2 separate regions of the Homo sapiens genome follow, and region 1 is reported to be linked to region 2. The links are microRNA targets in miRTarBase. Many come from high-throughput screens and were not tested one by one. Region 2 holds a microRNA gene; the other region holds the end of a gene's coding sequence.
What was found. The annotated mature microRNA hsa-miR-6506-3p reads UCGUAUCAGAGAUUCCAGACAC and lies in region 2 at 3,591-3,612, opposite strand. An mRNA with a match to its seed (bases 2 to 7 or 8) in the 3' UTR can be bound and repressed. Matches are read on the target gene's strand: a 7mer-m8 pairs with bases 2 to 8, a 7mer-A1 pairs with bases 2 to 7 and ends in A, and an 8mer does both.

Region 1: the mRNA of PCMTD2 is a reported target of hsa-miR-6506-3p. Seed matches in the 3' UTR shown: 7mer-m8 at 2,291-2,297.

Annotation. Positions count from the first base shown.
Region 1 is chr20:64,273,019-64,278,399 of GRCh38, forward strand. PCMTD2 (protein-L-isoaspartate (D-aspartate) O-methyltransferase domain containing 2) reads left to right here. Exons shown (of 6, transcript NM_018257.3): 6 at 203-3,208. The coding sequence ends at 582. It also overlaps the pseudogene IL9RP5. Among named protein-coding and RNA genes, the nearest start is that of PCMTD2, 20 kb to the left of the region's middle.
Region 2 is chr16:15,607,441-15,612,821 of GRCh38, forward strand. MIR6506 (microRNA 6506) reads right to left here and starts at 3,655; the gene lies at 3,590-3,655. MARF1 (meiosis regulator and mRNA stability factor 1) reads right to left here. Exons shown (of 27, transcript NM_014647.4): 17 at 5,117-5,337; 18 at 4,152-4,294; 19 at 3,535-3,668; 20 at 2,083-2,285; 21 at 851-1,078. RefSeq lists an enhancer at 3,032-3,326.

The DNA.
Region 1 (5,381 bases), not on the chromosome of region 2:
ATTTGGAAATATCTTTTGAAAAGTACCATATGATTGTAAATTAGAGCACTAATTGACATTTGCTTAGCATGCTCTCATATTCTTGTAACATATTCATAAATTTGCCAGTTAATTGAAATGATGCTACGGGTCTTAGGTGTGTAGGCGTTGTGGTGGTGTCACTCCGATGCATTTGACTGTGTCTCACTCTTCTGTGCTGCAGCACCAGTGGCAGTTCGCAGCCTCCAGGACTTGGCTCGCATCGCCATCCGGGGCACCATTAAAAAGATTATTCATCAGGAAACTGTGAGCAAAAACGGAAACGGACTAAAGAACACCCCCAGGTTTAAACGAAGGAGAGTTCGCCGCCGTCGAATGGAAACGATTGTCTTTTTGGACAAAGAAGTCTTTGCCAGTCGGATTTCCAACCCCTCAGATGACAACAGCTGTGAAGACTTGGAAGAGGAACGGAGGGAAGAAGAAGAGAAGACCCCGCCGGAAACAAAGCCAGACCCCCCAGTGAACTTCCTACGCCAGAAGGTCCTGAGCCTCCCTCTGCCAGATCCCCTGAAATACTACTTGCTTTATTACAGAGAAAAATAAGTCTCCTGTTTGAAAGGGGGAAATAGGAAGAGCAGATTGCTGAGTGTGAAGTTCGTGCTGCCTGTGTGCTGTTGAAGGGTCACCTGGAGGCAGACGTTGTGGGGAAGGGAACTGCTGGGCTCATCCACACCATGGTTTTCTTCTAGTTCCTGATTGACCTCTAAAATTCTATTCAGTTGTATGATTTGTTTACATAGTTCCACAAGACCTTCATTGCATAGAAGATTGTTTTCCCAAAGTGGAGAGAATCTTCATAGAGAAAAAGAGAAGGCTGTTTCTTTTTCGGCTCTGACGAAACACTGAAGTCTGCGTAAGAGAGACTGTTTGATGACCGTCCCTCATGCAACATGCACGGTACTCACTAAAAATGAAAACTGAAGTGGAAACTAACCTGTGTTGCTTATAAAGTGTGAAAGCACAAGCTTATAAATGTATAAAATCTTTTCTGGGTGTGACGCACCTGCGTCCAAGTTTGAATTTTTATGATATGTACCACTTAATTACTGGCACTGAGTATCACTGAATTTCTTAGTTTTCTAGTGGGGAAACATTATTGAGAAGCCCTCCCTTATTTTAAGTAAGTTGATTAAATCTTATGTGAGTTGCCAGTTGTAATTTTTCAAAGGAAAAATTTTGATGGGGTGGAGGAATGAATTGCCAGATAATCTTTCTGGAATTCCGAGAGAATTCCAAAGAGGGTTTTTTTTTTTTTTTTTAGGACATCTTTTGATACCTTTAAAAGAACCACTGTCAAGTAATCCTTAAAAGAATATCTTGGAAAAGGAAACAGATTTTTTCCTGTGTGTAAGCAATAAGTGAAGTTACATTTGCCCTAACCCTAGGGATGATTCTTTACCCAGTTTTAAAGCCCATCATGGTATTCTAAGGTGTTGACACCCTCCATCCTCAGAGCAGGTCGAAAATATTAAATAGACTGGGGACTCTATGATGGGCAGCCTGTGCTTTTTGACTTCAGTTTGCTATTTTTCTGTGATCACATTAGTACTGATTCATAGATTCTATCTTTTATAATTCTGGAGAAAAAGATTTGTTAGTTTTGTAATTTTTTTGTAAGACCAAATGTATGTATTTTAGTAGCTCCATTGCATGAGAAGAGTGTAACTCACACTGACTTGTGATATCAGCCTTCTCTGGGCCTTGTGTGTGGAGAGCTTTCTATCTTACCAAGTGGTAGGGCTAAAAGAACAACAGCCTTTTTGGTAGTCACATAGCAGAATGATCAGAGTTACATTGCTTATTCCAAAACATTGGTTCTTTTTAAAACATTTTTTTTTACCCAAAGAAAAGAATAATAGAAATTACTAACAATAAATATAAATTCAGAGTGTTGATATAGGATTCAGTATCCAGAGTTTATTTTTAATCTTAATCCTCAGCTTCTTGGGAGTTGCTGGGCTTCAGTGTCTCTGTGGTTTCACCAGCTTAGCTTGAGCTCTGGTTATTTTGGATCTTTTCTGCTTTTTTTAAGTAACTGAGTCATTTTTACCACACAGTCCAGTTTGCATGTATAGCTAGGAAACATGTATTGCTCTAGATTGGGCAGTTTAAGTCATTTTAAAGAAAGTTAGTTCATAGTTGTTGCCTTTTAACTCATAGTCAAGCTTCAGTCTTTCAAAGAGAAATGTGTGATTTTCATTTACTTGCTGATATTTTGTAGTTTGGAGATCCTTGTGGGCATTATTCTAACTGATACGTAGACACTTACTTGGAAATTTTTGGACATTATATTAAATGAGTGCTATCTGTGAAATTGGTTATATTAGGTGGCTTGACTAATGTTTTTTCTATAATTGTATATGGACTGCATTTTTAAAAAAACCGCATTTGCCTTTATGCTAGATTGTAAAAAATTATATTAGAATGCATAAGACATGTTTTTCCTTCATATGCTAGACTTTTCCTAGCATTTCGTATTTCTGTGTTGTCAGTGTGTGATTTTTAAACCGGAATTTGGTTTAAAAAAAATCTGGTGGTAATATATGTGAGAAATACTTTGGTGTTTACCTTATGAAAATAAAGGATTGTAAGTAAAGTTTCCTGCGCACCTTATACCAGAATTCAGTATAATACACTACTTTCTGTTTTCAAACAGATAAATCATAATATAGTCTGTATTATCTGTAAGATCTGTCTTGTAAACCACATTCTTGACAACTATTTGCTTTTGAGTAGTTTGTATTTTAATATGTGACTTTTGTCTTGAAAAGTAGTAAAGCCATAGACTTGTGCAAAACAAGTTTCAAGTTTATAGATATTAAGTTTGTAATGTGAGCATCAAATGTGTATGTAAAAATACTTTTTACCAGTCTGGAACTTGGGAAAATCCAGGGAATTTGAAACATAGATTTTAATGAGCTGGTAAACACAAATCATGTCAATAAAGGTAGTCAGGATATTTTATCCTTAGCATTGCTTCTGCATCCTGTGTAGGATTCCAATTCTTGAATATGTTCTTTTCAAAATCTTAAGAAAAGAACCTTTTTTCTTTATTAACATCATGTGTTTACTTTCAGCAAATATTTGTATTACTGCTTGATTCTGTGACAGTCACAATAGATGTAGAGAAGGCATTATTTTTCATTAATAAATGTGAAATTGGAATGGACAAATGGAGAAGTGGCTGGCTCCAAGTACATAAGAGAATAGGGCCTTGAAGATTGCGGTTAACGTTTTTGGCATAATTTTCCCACATTCAACTTTCTAAGGGGCAGAAAATATTTTTTTTTCATTCTCAGTTATCTGTTCAGAGCACAGATGTTATTTAGATCTTGAAATTCTGGGACCAGTCTCCCAAAGAGCTTATGTTTTCTCTTTTATTGTATGTGCTTGTTGGGATATTTTTTACATTCTGCCTTCCAATTTTTTATTTTGGCAGTTATATATTTTAAGATAATTTCATGCTCTCTTTACTGATCTCTGAATTTTCCTTCCTGCTGTATTCGTCAGGGTTCTGTAGAGGGACAGGACTAATAGGATAGATATATATATATGAAAGGGAGTTTATTAAGGAGTATTGACTCACAGGATCGCAAGGTGAAGTCCCACAGTAGGGCATCTGCAACCTGAGAAGCAAGGAAGCCAGTCCGAGTCCCAAAACCTCAAAAGTAGGGAAGCTGACAGTGCAGCCTTCAGTTTGTGACTGAAGGCCCAAGAACCCCTTTCAAACCACTGGTGTCAATCCAAGAGTGCAAAAGCTGAAGAACTGGGAGTCCTGTGTTCGAGGGCCGGAAGCAAAGCATGGGAGAAAGATAGAGGCCGGAAGACTCAGCCAGTCCAGTCCTTCCGTGTTCCTCTGCCTGCTTTTATCCTAGTCGAGCTGGCAGCTGAATAGATGGTGCCCACCCAGACTGAGGGTGGGTGTGCCTCTCCCAGTCCACTGACTCAAATGTTAATCTCCTTTGGCAACAGCCACACAGACACACCCAGGAATGATACTTTGCATCCTTCAAGCCAATCAAGTTGACACAGTACTAATCATCACACCTGCATATACTGTTATTTTCTGTGGTTGCAGTACTATAGACTTTTCTGAGGATCCTAATTAGAATTTTTAAAAATTTTACTTCATCGGAGGTGGGAACGTGGATTCTGGCCCTTCCTTGAACAAAGAAGGAAACGGCCAGAAAGAGGAAGGGATGTGGGGACTTACTCCTCTAGAGGTGATTTATCAGTTTGATCATGTTGATCTTTCATTTCTTGCTGTATCTCTTTTTTTTTTTCTTTTTTAACTGTTGTTGGAGACTCACGTTTGCCTGTCTGTAATTACAAACCAGGCTGGAGTAGGGACAGTCATTGGCCAACCTCATAGTGGGATGAGGAGAGCTGGTCTTCAAGCCAGGGGCCTGGACATATGAAGGGTAATGGTCTCTGGGAATCAGTGAGCCTCCTTGATCCGTCTGCAGAAACCCCTTCCTTCTGGTTCCCTGCTGCTGCTGGGCATCAGGATGCTCTCCCACCATTCGAGCTCCTTGCAAACCTCATCCTAACCCTAACCCTGCTGTGCCCCAGCTCTCTGTCAGATGCCCGTCACCAGGGGCTCCACTTGCAACCTGACTCTGAACAACTGTGGACCTTGTGCTTATGTCTTTCCCTTCTCTTTCTCTTGGAGACAGAGATGCTCTGAACAACTGTGGACCTTGTGCTTATGTCTTTTCCCTTCTCTTTCTCTTGGAGACAGAGATGTAACCCATTGCTCCACTATGTTGGAACCAGAATGTCCAAATTAGCACTTGAGGTTCTGCATGAAAGAGGAAATAGCAGAAAGCGGGGATAGAGTCATAGACCACACGGGCAGGACGTCCCTTTGACCTAGGAGGGCCCTGGGCAGCTGGGCACTGGGTGGTTAGAGCAGGGGTGGAGTCATAGACCACACGGGCAGGACGTCCCTTTGACCTAGGAGGGCCCTGGGCAGCTGGGCACTGGGTGGTTAGAGCAGGGGTGGAGTCAGACCACACGGGCAGGACGTCCCTTTGATCTAGGAGGGCTCTGGGCAGCTGGGCACTGGGTGGTTAGAGCAGGGGTGGAGTCATAGACCACACGGGCAGGGCATCCCTTTGATCTAGGAGGGCCCTGGGCAGCTGGGCACTGGGTGGTTAGGTGGTTGTTCTGATGGTCAAGAGGGAGAACAGCATGAGCCCTGCCCCAGGCCTGTTGTTCTGTGTCAGAGATCAGGGCTGTCTTAATGCCCCATATCCCCCACCTGGCCAGCTCCCCCAGACTCAGAGGGCAGCAGCAGTAACTACTGTGCCTTGATCCGCTAAGGTGGTGGGGGCCACCCC
Region 2 (5,381 bases):
CAGGAGGCTGAGGAAGAAGAATCTCTTGAACCTGGGAGGCGGAGGTTGCAGTGAGCCAAGATCGCACCACTGCACTCTAGCCTGGGCCACAGAGCAAGACTCCAACTCCAAAAAAACCCCACAGTGGGAAGGAAAGGGAGAGTGAACCCGTTCTGGCTGTTTACGGAATTAAATGACACAGAAATGTGTGCAGCTAGTAATGGGCCTGTAACTGAGGGTGCCGTCCTTCATGCTTCCCTTTCCATTCCTTCCTCCTGGCAGTGACTTCTTCTGGTCCTGTGGGGGAGGAGGCCGAAAACTGGCAGCTGCTCTGCCTAGGACAGGAAGGGTCAAGTGCAGTCCAGGACAGCAAACAGCACGAGCTGCCCTCTCTACTACAGCTCTGCCAGTGACAAAGGCCACTCTGCACCCTCGCTTGCTCCTAAGCCTACTCCTAAGTGGGTGAGAATGTGGAGGGAGAGGACACTGTGTGATTACGGGCTCCCAAGAACGTCACAGGCAAAACTCACACTGGAAGGAGTCAAGCTCAGGCCAGCAGTGCTGAGGCAGCTGCACCTCATGACCGAACCCTGGGGTGAAGAGTGACCTCATCAGTTCACAAAGGCATTGCTTTGGCAAGGCCATTCAGAAACACACAAGAGGAAGACCAAAACTCTCAACTTCCAAACCAAGGCTTCTATTACCTAATAAGCACTAATGACACAAAACGAGTCATAATGCTGTGACAGTTAAGTAGTTCAAGGTGTAAATAAAGAAACGCTACAGCACACGCAAACGTCCTAATGAGAATTAGGTCACTGTGAGTTTTATCCCATGAGGGAAAAAAAAAAAAAAAAAAAAAAACATTTACCTTCACGACATGGCAGAGTTTCTGAGTTAAAGCCGAAATGGAACTGACATCATAGTCTTGGAGACGAAATGTATAACCAAAAGTTTTAGCATATTCTGTAAGGAGATCTGTCATCATAAGGCAGTTATCTTTTTGGGACCGAAGGAGTTTAACAAACTGGGCAGCTAGAGCTTTGAACCGCTCCACCTCTGTCAGAGTAAGGATCTTTTCTTCTCCACATTCCAATACCTTTGAAAACACACGGGGGGAGGAAAGGGAAAATAAACAAATCACGGGTGTTTACAGAATAGCAAAAAAAGTATGCAGCTAGTAATGAAAAAACAAGTCAGCGTTACTGAATGGGTATAAAGTTTCAGTTGTGTAAGATGAAAAAGTTCAGAAGATCGGTTGCATAACAATGTGAATGTGCTGACCACTACTGGACAGGAGATATAAAGATAGTTACGAAGGTAAGTTCTATGTTATGTGTATTGTGCCACAATAAAACAATTTTTAAAAAGCACTTCAGTAGTAAAAAAAGAAAATAAAATCAACAACAGAAATTTGGTTTAACTTAGCAACAGCGAACAGCTTAGCACTGATGTTACCTCATGTACTCAGACCTACCTTCAACACGAAGGATTTTAAAAGTATAAAAGTAATGAACAAATATTCAGTGTAAGAAATCAGCAGGTGTGGTGGCTCACGCCTGTAATCCCAGCACTCTGGGAGGCTGAGACAGGCGGATCAACTGAGGTCAGGAGCTCAAGACCAGCCTGGCCAACGTGGTGAAACACCATCTCTACTAAAAATAGAAAAATTAGCTGGGCATGGTGGCGGGCACCTGTAATCCCCAGCTACTCGGGAGGTTGAGGCAAGTGAACTGCTTGAACCCGCAGGCGGAGGTTGCAGTGAGCCAAGATTGCGCCATTGCACTCCAGCCTGGGCGACAAGAAAGAAACTCCGTCTCAAAAAACAAAAACAAACAAACAAAAAAAAGAAAACCTACTGAATCTTTTTTTCAATAATTACCCCCAAAACAAGTTTGAATAATCCTTTATTGAAGGAAAAAGCCATATTTATCTAAAAATACTAATGAGTCAGGAATATGGCTTCTCTGACTGGAATAGCTTAGATTTTCATCCTCTTTCGTAACTCCCTACTTCCCAGAAAAACAGGTCTGGAACGTGAAAAAGTATTTCCTATACGTTGTTCAGAAAAATACTTTATAAAATTAGAATTTCTTCACTCACTTGTAAAGTATCAGGTATGGCTTCAAAAAGTTCAAGTAGTTTGGTAAACCCATAGTACGCAAGTTTGCACTGCCGGCCAAAGTGGTGATGGTAAGAAGGGATAAATTTATTAAAGGGCATCCGGAAATGGGGTTGGTGACGCAGCAAATCAACGACATCCTTGGAGAACTGTTTTGTCCTTTCTATTTCATCCTGAGTGCGTTCTTTTAAAAAAACCAAAAAACATAAAATCACAGTTTTTTTCTACCCATTTGTGTTCAACATCCACACTAGAGTAAATCCTTTTGGGAATTTATAAACGATATCATCCTTGCCTTCCAAACACACACAACCTAAAACAAACACATATACTCTTCCCTCTTTGCAAGTGGTTCTCAAACATGTTCCAGGGCAGAACACCAGGAAGTTATGATATTATTATATTATGAAATTCATATATATTCATCTTATAAGCTAGAAACAATGTCATCTTATAAGCTAGAAACAATTTTCTAGCCCCTGCCCCATATCTATTAACATGACACACACCCAGGTCCCTGTACTTAAGCAAGTACTCTAGAAATTATTCCCATGAAATCACGCTTCTGAATATCCCCACTTTTTTTGTTTATTCATCTGATCTTCAGTTAAAACTTGCTAGCAGAAGAGAGAATCAGGCTTCAAAAGTTGAACAAAAATAAACAGGAGGGAAAGCTTAAGCTGAGATTGTTTCTATTAATTTTTAAGTGAGAATGGGCCCTGGAATTCTATGATTTCATGGACATCAATGTTCTGCAGGAGCACCGTTTAAGAACCAGATAATAGAAGGAGGATACGACCATACAGTCACCCCTTGGTGTTCTCAAGGGATCGGGTCCAGGACCCTGCCTGGATACCAAAATCCGCACCTACTCAAGTCTTGCGGTCTGCCCCGCGGAAACTGCAGACACGAAAAATTGGCCCCCAGTATCCATGAGTTTCGCATCCCTCAAATACTGTACTTTCTACCCGTAACTGGACCTGTGCAGTTCTGACTTCAACTATTAAAATTTGAAAGGCAAAAGAAAAAAAAACATTCGAGTTGTCTTCCCTTCTCAAGTGTGCACAGTAAATAAAGTAGCTCAGAGTTCAACAGAAGAGCAAAGCCAACAGGCACGGTGACAGATTCTCAACTGGATGACTAAGGCTCATGTAGCCACAGCCAGGCTGCAGAAGGCATTTGAGCAAAGTGCTGATGATGCCCCTTTTTCCCCTTAGAGTCAATTCTAAAAAGCCAGCCTGCTTTTGTTCTTGAGAACAGCTTCACCTACTTTGAAGAACACAGAATCCAAAGAGCAGCAGTTTTCACACTGTGCTTTCTGTGGAATCTTCAGGAAGCACGGACAGGGAGGGAAAACCACATCTTCCATGCCACACTATGTTAAAATAACAGGAGATAGACAATATCCTTCCAGCAAATGTTAAGTCACATACCTCTTTTGGGGATACAAATCACCATTTCATTATCTTGTTGGGACAAGCAGATGGTTGTGTCTGGAATCTCTGATACGATGTCAATCAACTCACAAACACCATATTCAGTGACATCCCAGTCCTTTGAGAAACACCTAGGTTTTAACAACGGAAGTGGATACGGAATGAGTAGTATCATCGGTAGAAGAACTACAAGTTTTCCGGCCGGGCGCTGGGGCTCACGCCTGTAATCCCAGCACTTTGGGAGGCCGAGGTGGACGGATCACGAGGTCAAGAGATCGCGACCATCCTGGCTAACATGGTGAAACCCCGTCTCTACTAAAAAATAGAAAAAATAAGCCGGGTGTGGTGGCGGGCGCCTGTAGTCCCAGCTACTCTGGAGGCTGAGGCAGGACAACGGCATAAACCCGGGAGGCGGAGCTTGCAGTGAGCCAAGATCGTGCCACTGGGCGACAGAGCGAGACTCCGTCTCAAAAAAAAAAAAAAAAAAACAAAAAACTACTACAAGTTTTCCAAAAGAATGCTTAATAGAAATACTAGATAACTATTTAGAGTTTGGCAGAAGATAAAATGTCCTAAAATATTTACTTTCATTTCTGTTCTTTTCATCAACTCACCAGTGATAAGCCTGTGAGAATTCTCTCACAATGACCTGTTTGCTGGCCTGGGATTTGAGAAGTTTTAGTAAATCCTGAGTAAAGCGCTTCACCTGGGCCCTGTGGGTAAGGGTCAGCAGACGTTTGGAGCCCATTCCAAGAATCTGCAAAGCAAATAGTTTATTTATACACATAAGACCTCAGCAGACAGCGACTTCCTTGCTGCTGGCTCACCCTCTCGTTACTAGCCTCAGAGCATGACTCCCTTTATGTAGAATGTGTGCAATTTGAAACACATGTCGATCAACAAAATGTAGTTGGTCAAAAGGAACAAATGTCCAAGGCCTTCTGAAACTCTTATCGTTTTTGGCCTGGCACACCTTCTCCCAAACAGTCGTTGAGTATAAAAATGAAAAGTGTAATCTTTTGAAAAGAAAAGTCGTGAGTACAGAAATGAAAACTGTATTGGTTGTCCAGACAAATTGGTCTACAAGTTTTTCAAGCCGTTTTTAGTGAGTGGGAAGCTGTTATAACACTGTGAGTTAACTGGTAAAAGTCTTCATAGGATCCAGTGCTACACTCTAGCCCAGTAACTTGTCTCCAACTAGTTAAATTTAGAAGAAAGGTTAAGCCCTTGACTCTCACATAGGCACCAACATACAAGTATGTGGCTATTCATGGGAGCTTCCTTGTAATCATGAACAGTTCTGGAGAAAGCTGTGCTGGGATGAAGAAGGTCTATAGAGCTTAGAGGGAAAATACTCCTCAGTCCTCCAAGGAGTTCCTCTAAAACTGGAAACTAGCAGCGTTCTGAAAAATTGAGAAGCCGCCTGTGTGTGTTATTCCTGCCCTCTGAAGAAAGTTTTTAGTGGATGTTCTGCCCAGAACTGACTTCTTAGGAATTAAACTGTTTCTTTGATGGAGGCAGCCAAAGCCATGGAGGAACATTCCTGCCTGTAAACAAGTAATCCCGTGACACGCCTTACCTGCAATACATGAGGCACTGCTTCTAATAACTCAATCAGCTTGGAGTATCCGTAGTCTGACACTCGGCACTGCTTTGCAAAATGATGGTGATAGGATGGGATGAAATGACTGATGGGTATGACACAAGATGGCTGGCTTTTCAGCAAGTCAATCACTTCTCTACTGAACTGGATCAGCTGGGGGTTACCTACAGGACTCTTCGAACGCAGAAGCCAAGGGTCTAGAAGAAAAAGAACGTGTATAAGACAGAAAGCACAGATTTCA